Linked DNA regions of Homo sapiens. The protein of the gene in region 2 interacts with the protein of the main gene of each other region in a biochemical or structural test. Each region holds a gene or a part of one and is shown on either strand. Other genes may lie near its edges.

What was found. Proteins that work in one complex are often made in the same cells at the same time.
Region 1: the proteins of SFTPD (region 2) and UPK1A form a complex in vitro, tested with the Homo sapiens proteins (one study listed by IntAct).

Annotation. Positions count from the first base shown.
Region 1 is NC_000019.10:35,662,298-35,669,519, reverse strand, and holds the start of UPK1A (uroplakin-1a), read right to left. Parts: upstream 3,004-7,222; 5' UTR 2,982-3,003; intron 2,712-2,981; 5' UTR 2,708-2,711; coding exon 2,624-2,707; intron 1,573-2,623; exon of another isoform or gene 1,067-1,572; coding exon 866-1,066; exon of another isoform or gene 835-865; intron 1-834. UniProt on the Homo sapiens protein: Component of the asymmetric unit membrane (AUM); a highly specialized biomembrane elaborated by terminally differentiated urothelial cells.
Region 2 is NC_000010.11:79,946,094-79,953,050, forward strand, and holds the start of SFTPD (pulmonary surfactant-associated protein D precursor), read right to left. Parts: upstream 3,013-6,957; 5' UTR 2,973-3,012; intron 570-2,972; 5' UTR 567-569; coding exon 368-566; intron 1-367.

The sequences.
Region 1 (7,222 bases), on a different chromosome or scaffold from region 2:
TTTTTTTTTTTTTTTTTTTTAGAGATGGGATTTCGCCATGTTGGCCAGTCTGGTCTTGGACTCCCGACCTCAAATGATCTGTCCGCCTCAGCCTCCCCACGTGCTGGGATTACAGGCATGAGCCACTGCGCCTGGCCACGAAGCTCATTTTCTAAACTGCTTACCCTAGTGTCAGGTGCATGAGAGACACTTGGGAAGTATGGGTTATTCTTGTGGGCAGAGATTAAGAGCACAGCCTCAAGAGCCGATCTGCTCAGGTTGAAACTGGCTCTGCCATTGTCTCAATGTGTGACCCTGGATAAGTGACTTCACTTCTCTGAGCCTCAGTTTCAATCTTCATCAAACAGGGTCATGATGATGACAGTATCTCTTGGTGGACTATGAGGAATAAATGAACTAATCCAGTAAACCATTTAGAACAGCTCGTGGCTTGTAGTAAACCATTATTAAATGGTAGCTGTGCTATTATTGGCAGAGTTCATGAGCATGGACTCTGGAAAGCAGCTAGCAGGGGTTCAAATTCTAGCCCTGCACTGGGTGCAGGTAGAGGGGCTCAAGCCTGTAATCCCAGCACTTTGGGAGGCTGAGGCAGGAGAATCATTTGAGCCAGGAGTTTGAGACCAGCCTGGGCAACATAGTGAGACCCCCATCTTTACCAAAAAAAAAAAAAAGAAAAAATCCCAGCTCTGCTACTCAAGCCTGGGTTATTGGGCTGTGGGAAGACTGAATGAGATGATGCCTGGGATCCCTGAGTGTGACACCATGGGGAACTCACACTAGTGGCTGGGGCTGCACCTGCTACTATGACTCAGTGATGCTGAACTCCGTTTTCAGTGTCCCCATCCCCCAACCCCTGGAGTCTCACCGTGAGGACCATGGACCGGCGGCGGCAGAGTGCGGCACCCACACCAAAACTGGCTACCATGAAGAAGGAGAAGCCGCAGAAGATGGCAATCCAGGCACCAGCGAAGACGTCATCCTTGCCTGAGACTCCCATCAGTGGGTATACACGGTACTGGTCGGCTGTCACCCATATGGTCTCAGCAAACAGGGACAGGCCTGACAGCTGGACAGAGCGGTGGGTTAGGAAGGTCTGCTCGGGGCCAGCAGCCCTGGCACCAGGCATCTCCACGAGCAAGTTCCCTCCCCATTTGGAGCCTCCACTGCCCTCTCAGTAAAGTGGGCAAAGACCTCGCCTTCCATGAGCAGCGATGAGGGTGAGCAGAGGCCAGGAGAGAAGAGACAGCCCAGCCAGACAACCGACCCCCACGCCCCAGCTGCCAGTTTCTTCGGGGATAAAAGGGGATGCCACGTGGAAAGGCTGGAGCAGTGGACTGGCACAGAGGAGATGCTTGGTCCATCTGCCCTCCCTTGACAGTGCTGTTATTCCCCGAGGAGGGGAACATGGCCATGGCCATAAACATTACAAATGGGCCAGGCAAGGTGGCTCACACCTGCAGTCCCAGCATTGTGGGAGGCCGAGGCGGGAGGATTGCTTGAGCCCAGGAGTTTGAGACTAGCCTGGGCAATAGTGAGACCCCGTCTCTACAAAAAATAAAAAAATTAGCTAGATGTGGTGATGTGCACCTGTAGTCCCAGCTACTTGGGAGGCTGAGGCAGGAGGATCAGTTGAGCCCAGGAGTTGGAGGCTGCAGTGAGCAAGCATCACACCACTGCACTGCAGCCTGGTCAACAGAGTGAGACCCTGTCTCTAAAACAAACACACGGCCAGTCGCGGTGGCTTACACCTGTAATCCCAACACTTTGGGAGGCTGAGGTGGGCAGATCACCTCAGGTCAGGAGTTCAAGACCAGCCTGGCCAACATGGTGAAACCCCATCTCTTCTAAAAATACAAAAAGTAGCCGGGTGTGGTAGCATGTGCCTGTAATCCCAGCTGCTCGGGAAGCTGAGGCAGGAGAATTGCTGGAGCCCAGGAGGTGGAGGATGCAGTGAGCCGAGATCTCGCCACTGCACTTCAGCCTGGGTGACAAAGGGAGAATCTGTCTGAAAAAAAAAAAATTAGCCGGGCGTGGTGGTGTGCGCCTGTAATCCCAGCTATTCTGGAGGCTGAGGCAGGAGAATCACTTGAGCCCGGGAGTTAGAGGTTGCAGTTAGCTGAGATCAGCCACTGCACTCCAGCCTGGGCAACAGAGTGAGACTCCGTCTCAAAAACAAAACAAAACAAAACAAAACAAAACAAAACAAAACAAAAAACACAAAACCAAAACCCAATGTTAATTGAAAGACACTGTTGTTTTTCCTTCTTGTGGCCTCCTGTGCACCAGGCTGTCACTTTATATCCATAGTGATGCTGATGGTGATAGCCAGCATTGGTCGGGCACTTTCTCTGAGCTGAGGGCCACACATGGATTAATCCACATGACAACAGCCCACACAATGAGGACACAGTCTATAGATGAGGAAAGAAGGCACAGAGAGGGACAGTCGCTTGCTAAGGTCACAGAGCTGGGGAGAGGCAGAGCTGGGATTTCAACCCAGGCTGTGCTGACCACTGAGTCTGCCCGAGAGACAGTTCTGGACCCTCATCCCCCACCCCGAGCTCAGGACTGTCCCCTCCCCACCACACAACCACTCGGCTCCCAGCACTGGGGCGAGTCTCACCAGAATAATGATATTGCCCACAACTAGCAGGCCCACCACAACTGGAGATCCCTTCTCGGCCTCCGCTGCTGCCGCAGACGCCATCATCCTGGGACACATGAGCAGGGATGAGGCCAGGAGCGTAAAGGGCCAGCCGGACCCCCCATCTCTGAGCCACACCCTGGCTTCGAGGGGTTGCTCCAGCTCTCTGCGGGGCCCAGGCTGGTACTGATGTACCCACAGCCCTGGTGGGGAGGCATTTTGCACAAGAGGACACCCGGGCTCCGGTGGGGCAGTCACTGGCCTGAACTTGGCACTGCCCCTCCCTGAGCCTCAGACCCCTCATGCCATACCCAGACTCCCAGGGCCCCCTCCTCACCTTCTCTGTCTGCAGCCTCTCTGGCCAGCCCCACCCACCGTGGCTCCCTATATACGCCCAGGCCCCTCCTTGGGCTAGTCTCCCAGGAAGGAGGGAGGGTGTGTGTGTGTGTGTGTGTGTTTTGGGGCACGGCAGTGGGGTGGACAAGAGGCTGAGCCGGCAGACCAGGCTGGATGAACAGCTTTGATGGGCTCCCTGCCACCCCCATGATTTATAGACCTGAAATACCAGATTGTGTAGGACCCATGGCCTCTGGGTCCCAGGCTTTGTTGGCGGTGGAGGAGTTGGAGGTGGAGGGGCGTGCGCACCACCTGGTGTCTCTCTTGCTAGGACATGGGCCTTCCTGGGAATAGGAGCAAGATCCAAATCAGGGCGGGGCGTGGTAGCTCAGGCCTGTAATCCCAGCACTTTGGGAAACTGAGGTAGGCGGATCGCTTGAGCTCAGTAGTTTGAGACCAGACTGGGTGACATAGTGAAACCCCGTTTCTATAAAAAATACAAAAATAATTAGCCAGGCTCATGCCTGTGGTCCCAGCTACTTGGGAGGCTGAGGTGGGAGGATGGCTGAACCTGGGGACAGAGGTTGCAGTGAGCCAAGATCGTGCCATTGCACTCCAGCTTGAGTGACAGAGCCAGGCCCTGTCTCCAAAACCAAACAAACAAAAAATCCACTTCGGACCCACAGGTGGGTCCTGAATCCCAGAAGTGTCTCTCCTGCTGTGTGACCTTGCACAGGTGGCTGCTCCTCTGTGAGGCCGGGAGCCCGTGGGGAGGCCCAGGCAGGGACCCCTGCCAAGGCCAGGGCTGGACCGAGGCAGAGCAGTGGGGAGATGAGGGGACAGGTGGAAGGGGCGCTTAGGAGGCTGACTACATGGGCGGTGGGCTGAGGGAAAGGATGGCACCCAGGATAGGTGTGTGAGGGGAGTCTGAGATAAGTGCAAAGATGGGGGAGAAGAACGTGCTAGAAAATGAGAGGGGGCACACCGGGCTTGGTTGAAGAAAAGTCCCCGTCGCCCCCCAACACACGCATGGACCAGACATTTATTTCTTCAGGTGCAGAATGAGAAACCTAGGTTCAAATCCCGGTTCTGCCTCTTCTGGGCGGCACGACTTGGCTTGTGGATTTGCCCATCTGCGAAATGGGTATCATCAGACCGCTTCCCTGGCGGAGGTGGGGACTGAGCCAGCGCGTGTCCCCAGGGGCCGCCGATGCTGCCCACGAGGCCACGGTCTCTCCGATGCCACGCCCTCGCAGCGCAGGGCTGGCTCCATGCAAAAATGGTGGCCCAGGGCCCCCGACACCGTCCCCAGAACTTCTCAACCCCAAGGCTAGGCCGTGTATTGCCTCTGCTGTGGGAGCAGTGGCTCCCCACTGCGGTGCCTGCGAATTTGGCAAATGACACTGAAAATCCCATCGTCAAGGCACTGGTTTGGTAATAAGATACATGAGATGTTTTCCGATTAAAATGGTTAATTTGGTTTTAGTCAACCCACTTTAGATTTTAAAATAGTTTTTTTGGCCAGTCGTGGTGGCTCACGCCTGTAATCCCAGCACTTTGGGAGGCCAGGGTGGGGGGATCACCTGAGGTCAGGCTGACTAACATGGTGAAACCCTATCTCTACTAAAAATACAAAATTAGCCAGTCGTGGTGGCAAGTGCCTGTAATCCCAGCTACTCAGGAGGCTGAGGCAGGAGCTAATCGCTTGAACCTCGAAGGCAGAGGTTGCAGTGAGCTGAGGTCGTGCCATTGCTCTCCAGCCTGGGTGACAGAGTGAGACTCTGTCTCCACAACAACAACAAAAATCTGTAAAGTGTTTATTCAAGAAAAGCAGCTGAATCTTAGTAAGAGCAGTGAACTTTATGACTTTTTTAAAATTTATTTTTATTTTTGTTTTCTTGAGACAGAGTCTCACTGTCGCCCAGGCTGGAATGCAGTGGCACGATCTCAGTTCACTGCAACCTCTGCCTCCCAGGTTCAAGCAATTCTCCTGCCTCAGCCTCCCGAGTAGCTAGGATTACAGGCGCCCGCCACCACGCCCGGCTAATTTTTATACTTTGTGACATTTTTAATTGGCCTAGTTCCATTCCCCCATTCCAGCTCCATGGTAGCCTTGAATATTAACTGCCAGCATTCTCAGTGGAAACTAGCAGCCTGGCATACACCAAACGGGGCAGAAGAGGATGAAACTCCATAAAAGCCTCACTCCCAGAAAGTCAGAATTATTTGATTCGTCTTATGGTTCCCTGGAAGCCCCTACTTGCAATGTTGTCTGTATTTGACCTAACTTAGAGCTCATACATCGTCAAAATTATTTCCCCAGGGGCATTTGTGAAACACAATTGCATGCAATTGTTTAACTAGGCAGCTGCCTAAGCAATGAATAACAGTTGAGGCCAATAATAGGCTAATGAAACAGTTTAAAAGATAAAGCTGGGGAATGAGAAGGCTTTGAAAAACTCCAAAATATTCTTGGAAATCTAGAAGGTCACATGCATGCATAGGGTTGTGTGCATGCCCAGGAGTATATGCAGGCTCAAGAAAGACCAGAGATGAGAACCCAGTCTTCTTACATTGGGCTGACCTTGAGGATGTGTGCCTTCCTGGGAGAAGTAGTGGCGAAGGCAGAGTTGTCAATTGCCTGGCTGAATGTCGAAAGCATGGCCCACCATGCCTCAGCAAAGGCTAGGAGATTATTGGTTTTTGGAGGCTAAGGAAATCTTTGTCCAATCATTAGCGGAACTAATGCTAAAGAATACTGTCTTTTTTTTTGAGATGGAGTGTTGGCCAGGCTAGTCTTGAACTCCTGACCTCAAGTGAACCTCCCACTTTGGCCTCCCAAAGTGCTGGGATTACAGGTGTGAGCCACCATGCCTGGCCTAAAAGCAGAAATTATTTTAAAAGAACTAAACAGAAACTTGGGACTTGAAAAGTACAGTAACTAAAATGAAAAAATTCAAATGGGCCAGGCGTGGTGGCTCATGCCTGTAATCCCAGCACTTTGGGAGGCCGAGGTGGACAGATCACGAGGTCAGGAGATCGAGGCCATCCTGGCTAACATGGTGAAACCCTGTCTCTACTAAAAATACACAAAATTAATCAGGCATGGTGGTATGGGCCTGTAGTACCAGCTACTCAGGAGGCTGAGGCAGGATAATCACTTGAACTCGGGAAGTGGAGGTTGCGGTGAGCCGAGATCGCGCCACTGCACTCCAGCTTGGGCGACAGAGCGAGACTCCGTCTCAAAAAAAAAAAAAAAGAAAAAATTCAATAGAGGAATAGAGGGTTCAACAACAGATTTGAGTAGGCAGAAGAAAAGATCGGTGAACGTGAGTATAGATCAGTTGAGATGATCAAGTCTAAGGAACAGAAAGAAAAAAGCACGAAGATAAGTGAACAGAACTTCAGAGACCTGTGAGACATCATCAAATAATGGGAATCCCAGAAGGAGAGGACAAAAAGAAAGGGGTAAAAAAGAATATATGAAGAAAGAATGGCTGAAAACTCCCAAAATTTGATGAAAAAAACCATCAATCTAGAGCCAAGAAGCTCAATAATCTTCAAATAGGATAAACTCAAAGATATCCATCACCAGACATATCATAATCAAATTATTGAACGATAAAAAGAGAACCTTGAAAGCAGCAACTGACAAGTGACCCATCACGTATAATTAATCATCAATAAGATTAACAGCTGGGCTGGGTGTGGTGGCTCATGCCTGTAATCCCAGCACCTTGGGAGGCTGAAGCGGGAGGATCACTTGAGCCCAGGAGTTGGAGATCAGCCTGGGCAATATGGGCAAACTCCATCTCTACAAAAGAATACAAAAATTAGCTGGGTGTGGTGGCATATGCCTGTAGTCCCATCTACTTGAGAGGCTGGGGTGGGAGGATCTCTTGAGCCTGGGAGTTCAAGGCTGCAGTAAGCTGTGATCAGGCCACTGCACTCCAGGCTGGGTGACAGAGTGAGGTCTTGTGTCAAAAAAAAAATTAAAAAAAAAAAAATAATAAAATGAGAAAGATTAGAACATTTGGAAAAAATGCAGGCTGGCGTGCGGTGGCTCAGGCCTGTAATCCCAGCACTTTGGGAGGCTAAGGCGGGCAGATCACCTGAGCTCAGGAGTTGAGACCAGCCTGGGCAACATGGTGAAACCCCGTCTCTATCAAAAACAAACAAACAAACAAAAAACTAGCTGAGTATGGTGGTCTATGCCTGTGGTCCTAGCTACTTGGGAGGCTG
Region 2 (6,957 bases):
TAAATATTTAAAATATTTAATGCCCTGCACAGGCATCATTTAATTGGAATGAACAACTGCTAACTGCTGGCACAGGGCTCTAGAAGGCCCCAGATATCAGTAATTTACCACTGTTTGCTTGCTCTTGGGATAGGAAGGATCCGGGGATCCTAGAGGAGGAGCTAGGGCAGTTGGGTGCTGGAGGAGGCACATGGGGGCTCAGCACAGCCACTTGTTTGCCAGCTGGTGGAGCAGTGTGGAACTCGCCTTCTTGGGAGGAAGAAACACGTCTCCAGACTTCCATAACAAAGTACCCAGAGTTGCTGGGCTAGTTACAGTTCCAATGACCATTCCTCCCCAGCAGGATAAGCCCAGGGCCCCACCCTACCTGGGTCCCCCTTCTCGCCCCGAGGGCCCTCTCTCCCATCCCGTCCATCGCGACCAGGCAGGCCACTCTCCACTGAGCTACACATGACCAGGGTGCAAGCACTGGGCATTGTTCTGTGGGAGTAGGTCTTCATTTCTGCTTCCAGGTAGCCCAGGGGCTGTGTGAGCAGGACCAGTGCAGAGAGGAGGAAGAGCAGCATGGCCTGGAGAGGTGAACAGAAAGAGAAAAGACATGCTTATGCTTCATGGACATGGTTTAGGGCTTGGCTCAGCTTCTAGAGGTGACAAGAAGCCCCCATTCCCTCCTTCTGTCCTCTGCTATGGGGCCTAGAGCAGCAGGAATCCAAAAGCAGTTTAAGGACAAGGAGGGCACAAGGTCTGGATGGAGAGCATGAGTTACCCAGCTGGAACTCTGACATAGGTTGACAGCAGCATCCCCCATTCCCAGGTGCTCATGTCTTCCCTTCTTGTGCCTTCCCTTGGGCACTAAGTTTGGCACAGTGGCTAGGATGTAGCATTCCTCACTGGGGCCATCTGTCACATCAAGAAGGGTTCATTGAGTGCCTCTGGGCAGGACACCCCCCGCCCACTCCCTAGACCATCTCCCTGTCTGTACCACTGAGGCAACTGGCTTAGCTCAGACAAGGCAAGCCTGTTTCTTCTCTCTTGCTGCCTTGCATGGACTAGCACTGGTGCTGATAGTGCTGGTCTGAAAATGCAGCCAGAGTCCTGAGTGCTTAGTAATGTCCTTCCTGAGCGCAGGCTGGGAGTGTGGTGCACATTTGCCTGGCAATTTGCCATTCCTCGAGCAGGTGCTGTCTCTAGAGAAAAGTCCCAGAGGGAACCCAGGTGAAAGTTTTCAGAGACACTAAACTAGCAGTAGGAGAAATCCTGAGACACCTAGAGTTCTTCTAAGACCTGAGAGGGTTTGGAAAAGAAGTATGTGGAGTCTGGGCACGGTCGCTCATGCCTGTAACCCCAGCACTTTGGGAGGCCGAGGCGGGCAGATCACTTGAAGTCAGGAGTTCGAGACCAGCCTGGCCAACATGGCAAAACCCCATCTCTACTAAAAGTATAAAAAATTAGCCAGATGTGGTGGTGCGTGCTGTAATCCCAGCTACTCGGGAGGCTGAGGCAGGAGAATCTCTTGAACCCGGGAGGTGGAGGGTGCAGTGAGCCGAGATCGTGCCACTGCACTCCAGCCTGGGCAAGAGAGTGAGACTCCATCTCAGAAAAAAAAAGAAGTCTTATATGGAAAGAGGACATGCCAGGTAGGCTCAGTCAGGCAGAAAGCTAGTGTTGTGGGTAAGCAAGAGCAACTACCCAACAGGGCACCCATTTACTATCTAAGATGGTCAGGAACTGAGACCAGGATAAGAGCAGGACCTGGGACATTAACTGTTTTGGGTATCTTTTCTCTCAATGAGAAACCGTAAAGTTATGAGAGTGAAAAGAGCTGATCAGATTCGCAGAGGCTAGGAACAAAGCCAGAGGGACTTGTGCAAAGAAAGGGGTCACCAGGCCAACTGGGGTGGTGGCAAGTGGGGGGCTTCCTGCCCAGAGGAGTGCCTTCTTCTTTGACTGCTGGTGATTCTGGGCTGTGGATGACCCCTATTTCTCACTAGCCTCTTTCAATTTTGAAATCACCACTTCCTTGGGTATCCTGGTAGTCTCTAGAAACACCTGGGTGAGCTCACTGCCAGCAGCGGCTACCTTGTTACACCTGTTCTGGCAGAGGCTCAATCATGAGCAGCAAGGGCCAGACCCAGGCCAGAGCAAGGGCATTGTTCTGTGCCCCGCAGCTCCCTCACCCCTCAGGCCCTGTGTCTGATTCTGGGGAAGAATGAAAGGCAATAGGCATTCTGTCTACAGGCTCAAGATGGCACAGAAGGCACCAGCAGCCACTGTGGCTTGAAGGACACTTGGAGAGGGCAGACCCGGGTTTTCAGGCCCAGGATTCAGATGAGGCATCTTAGCTGGGGCAGCAGATGGAGTGGGCAGAGTTGTGGTCCCCCTCAACCCCTGCAGTGCCCAGTTTATGCTAAGCTTTCAGAGTACAATTTCATTGAAAAGGCCATCTCCTCTGAACATGGATTGGAAAATCAGAGACCTACTCCAGTAAGTATATTTTTTAAAGTAAAGACCTGAAGCTATGAGAAAAACAGGCTTGCCCTGCTTTTCCACAGGCTGTTGGCACCAGGATGGGTTTAGAACCCCAGCCTGTGAGTGCCTGGGTTTGTCTCTCTTCCACTGTCCTTTCTGAAGAAATCAGTGCAGAAAAGAGCCTAGAGATAAATTAGCATTGCATTTTTCCACCTGAAGCTTCCACACTGTGGCATCCCAGGTCTAGATAGTGTCACACCCACTCTTCCACCCTGTGCACCCCCAGCTCAGAAAGCAAATCCTCCCCTGGGCTGAGGCCACTGAATAAGGGGCAGAAGAGCACCATAAGACCTCCTGTGCTCCCCACCTCCTGCGCCCATGCCTCCTAGACCAGAACAGCTACACAGACCCTCCACACCAATAGGTTGAATTGCCCAGGTCGGCAGAGGGATATTTATAGGATGTGGAGAAAATAAAAAGAAGGCAAGAACAGAGACACTTACAGGTTTCTTTTTGTTAGGCCCCAGGAGCTCCAAGCAAACTAGCCTTTGCTTGGCAGGCACTCACTATTTATGCCTGCCCTGTACCCTGAGCTGCCCAGCCCCAAAAACTCCCTTCAAGAAGTGGGGCAATTTTCTTCTTTATTGACTCACTCACTCTTATCCCCACCTGCGTTCTGGAAACCTGCCACTGATATTCACAATACTATGCACATCCATCACTATAGTTTGCAGAACACTATCAGGCCTTGAACTCATCTGCACCTTTCTCACTGCAGCTCTGTGAATTAAGTGGCATCATCAGTGTCTGTATTTTATAGATGTCTAGAAATCAGGAGTCCAGAGACCAGCAGGTTGCACAATGACCTACAGCGATTGCAAAAGGAACTCACAACTGCAGATCTTAAGAGCCAAGACCTGCTGTGTCCACTTCTCCTCTTCCTTTGTCTCAACAGCACTGCCCAGATATTGGGAAAGAGCTGAGAGCTGCTTGGAATACCTGGGCAGGGGTGGGGCAGGTAGAGTGGCTGCAGAGGCAGCAGCATGTGGGGGCAGCAGCTAGGGAGCTGCCACCTGGAAAGAGTTGCTCTTTTGCATGCTGCTCTAGGCCTCAGAGAGCCCCTGCCTTGCTTGTCTTTTGTGGGATGGATTTCCCTTAGCAGACCTCTGCCTTGCCTTGTTCAGGCTTGTTCTCCCTGCCATCTTAGCTGGTGTTTGTCTTGTGCACTGTTCTTGTAACTAGTTAGGACCCCTGAGCTGATGCTACTTTTATCCAATCTTTTAGTCTGTATGTATTTTTTTTTTTTTTGAGACAGTCTCACTCTGTCACCCAGGCTAGAGTGCCATAATGCATTTATAGCTCACTGCAGCCTCAAACTCCTGGGCTCAAGTGATTGTCCTGCCTCAGCCTCTTTACAGGTGAGCATGATCACACCTGGCTAATTTCTCTTTTTAATTTTTTACAGAGATGGGGTCTCACTCTGTTGCCCACGCTGGTCTCAAACTCCTGGTCTCAAGCAATTCTCCTGCCTCAGCCTACCGAAGTTCTGAGATTACAAGTGTAAGCCATCATACCCAGCACCAATCTGTATCTTTTAAGTGGAACATTTACTCCATTTATTATCAAGGTTAATATTGATATGTGATGTTTTGTTCCTGTCATGATAATTGTTACCCAGTTGCTTTTTAGTCTCAATTATGTAATTGCTTTATATAATCTGTGAGTTTTTCACTTTAATGTGCTTTTATGATGAGGAGTATTGTCCATTCATTTCCATGTTTAGAACTTTAAGCATTTCTTGTAGTGCTGGTCTTGTGGTGACAAATTCCCTTTGCATTTGTTGTATGGGAAAAACTTTATTTCTCCTTCATTTATGCAGCTTAGTTTAGCAGGATACAAAATTCTTGGCTGGCAGGATTTTTGTTTAAGTAGATTAAACATAAGACCCCAATCTCTTCTGGCTTGTAAGGTTTCTGCTAAGAAGTCCATTGTTAGTCTGTTGGGTTTTCCTGTATAGATTAGACATTTCTCTCTTGCTGCTTTTAGGATGTTTTCCTTCACATTGACTTTGGATAGTCTGATGACGATATGCCTTTATGAGGTTTCTCTTGTAAAGCATCTTCCAGGTGTTCTCTGAGCATCTCCTATCTGGATGTCTAATTCTCTAGCAAGACCAGGGAAGTTTTCCTGAATTATTCCCTCAAATAGGTTTTCCAAGCTTTTAATTTTTTTTCTTCTCCCTCAGGAATGTCTATATATTGTATATTTGGTAACTTTATGTAATTCTATATTTTTCAAAGTCTTTGTTCATTTTTAAAAATTTATTTTTTCTGTATTTCTGTCTGACTAGGTTAATTCAAATGACTGGCCTTCAGGCTCTGAAATTATTTCTTCTGCTTGGTCTAGTCTTTTGCTAAAAGTTTCAACTATATTTTATAGTTCCTTCAATAAATTTTTATTTCTAGAAGTTCTATTTGGTTTTTGTTTTTTAATCTCTATCTCTTTTGTAAATTTTTCATTAATATCCTGAATTATTTTTCTGATTTCCTTATGTTAGTTTTCAACTTTCTCTTGTATCTCATTGAGCTTCCTTACAACTCATATCTTAAATTCTTTATTTGTTATTTCAAAATTTTTATATTGGTTAGGATCCATTGCTAGGGAGCTGGTGTGATCCTTTGGGCATGTCAAAATACTGGTTTTTCGTACTTCCAGAGTGCTTATGCTGATTTCTTCTCATCTAGAGAACCCGTTACTTCTTACTTTTGAACTTACTCTCATTTGAATGGGATTTTTTCCCCCTTTGAAGGTGTGACTGTATGTTGTGTGTGATCATTTGGCTTCAATTTTGGGTGCCTTCCGTGGGTCACAGCTCTGTATGAGTTCCTTGGTCATAGATAGCTTTTGTGTGGTGGCTTTATTATGCTGTATAGATAGCTTTTGTGTGGTGGCTTTATTATGCTGATTGTAGTAGCAATGTATTGGGCATATGAGCAGGAATACTACCTTCTGAGGGGCTGGGAATGTGGAAGTCTCTGAAAGTTTATCTCATTCCCCAGCACTATACCCTCTGTCAGCCTGTTTTTTATTTGGTTGTGCAATTCAATCTGCATCCCAATAAAAGCTGGCTGTGGCATAAGCTGATGGGTACTTGGTCTTTGTTTTCTGGGAGGGGATCTCTGTTGTCACAGGCAGTTGGCTGGTCTGTGGATGGCCTGATTCCCTGAAGGGAACACAAAGCTTTGGAGGGGGACACAAAACTGAGGGGCACTAAACGACCAAGCTCACCCTGGGAAACCCCAATTATGAGCAGAAGCAACTGCCTTGATGGGAGTGGAAATGGGAGCTCATGGTGAAAGGCACTGATGTCTCCACCAGAGTGGGAAGGAGTATACCAGCTCCACATCCTGGGAAGGCAGGAAGGCAATCCACTTTCCTAAAACACCCTTGTCCCGGAGCTTGTGACCTTCAGTTCAGATAGACATTGTCCTTCATCTCCAGGCTGCAGTGTGATGGAGGTCTGCAGAAAACACCCGTCCTGTGGCTACCACCAAAATGGCCTTGGGATAGAACCTCTTCCCTCAGCAGCTCTGATATTCATCTGCATTCTGCTATGGGAATGCTGCTGCTCCATATGGGGAGGAGGATAAACTCTGCCCTTCGTGCAAGGCTTGGCCAGCAGGCACCCCATCAATGGGAGTGCAGCTGCCCCCAGGAGCCCTCAAAAGCCATCCCCAGGTGCACTTGTGCCAGCTCCCAGTAGGGACAGCCAACGGTCTATCTGGAGCATTGAGTGAGGGGGTAGGAGAAGACTCCCTTTCCATGTTTATTCCCAGGCACCAGTGTCACCTGCCTACTGGTGCAGAACCACACTCCTCCCCTTCAGACCCCAGAACCATGCCTGTGTCTCTGCTGGGAGGGGCACAGCCAGCCTCTTCTCACACGTGGGGAGCTCTTAGGCAGAGGAGAGCAAATGAACTGGTTTCTTTTATCCAAAGGAGTACGTTGGCACAGACACTCTCCCTTCTCCTAAGAGCTAGACTTCTAGGAATTCCATAGCTCCCCAGGGTCCCACCCGTCCCCTGTGGTTGCTGCAGTCTAAGTGGGTTCTGGGGAATGTTCATGGAGGATCTAGTGATGCAGAAACACAAGGGCTGGGATTCCTTGGGAAGAACAGACCCACAATGGGTGCATAACCAGTATGACACCTGCCACTTCAACTCAGGTTTTGGGGGAGAGCGAGTGTGCCTGCATGAGCTGGCCACCCAATGCTCTGCCCTAAAGAAGTTCCCAAATTGCCACTGACAGCAATGCCTGGGCTCACAGGTGCAGAGGGTTTCTCCAACAAGTTCAGCAGTCCATAGTCTGCCACAGGAGTGAGGGGAGCAACTTCCCCTCCTACCCTCTCCATGGGACTCTATGTTCCTTGGAAGTCAATCTCTGCAAAACTCTTGCTGTCTTCTTTTTCAGCACCACAGCTTTTTCCTG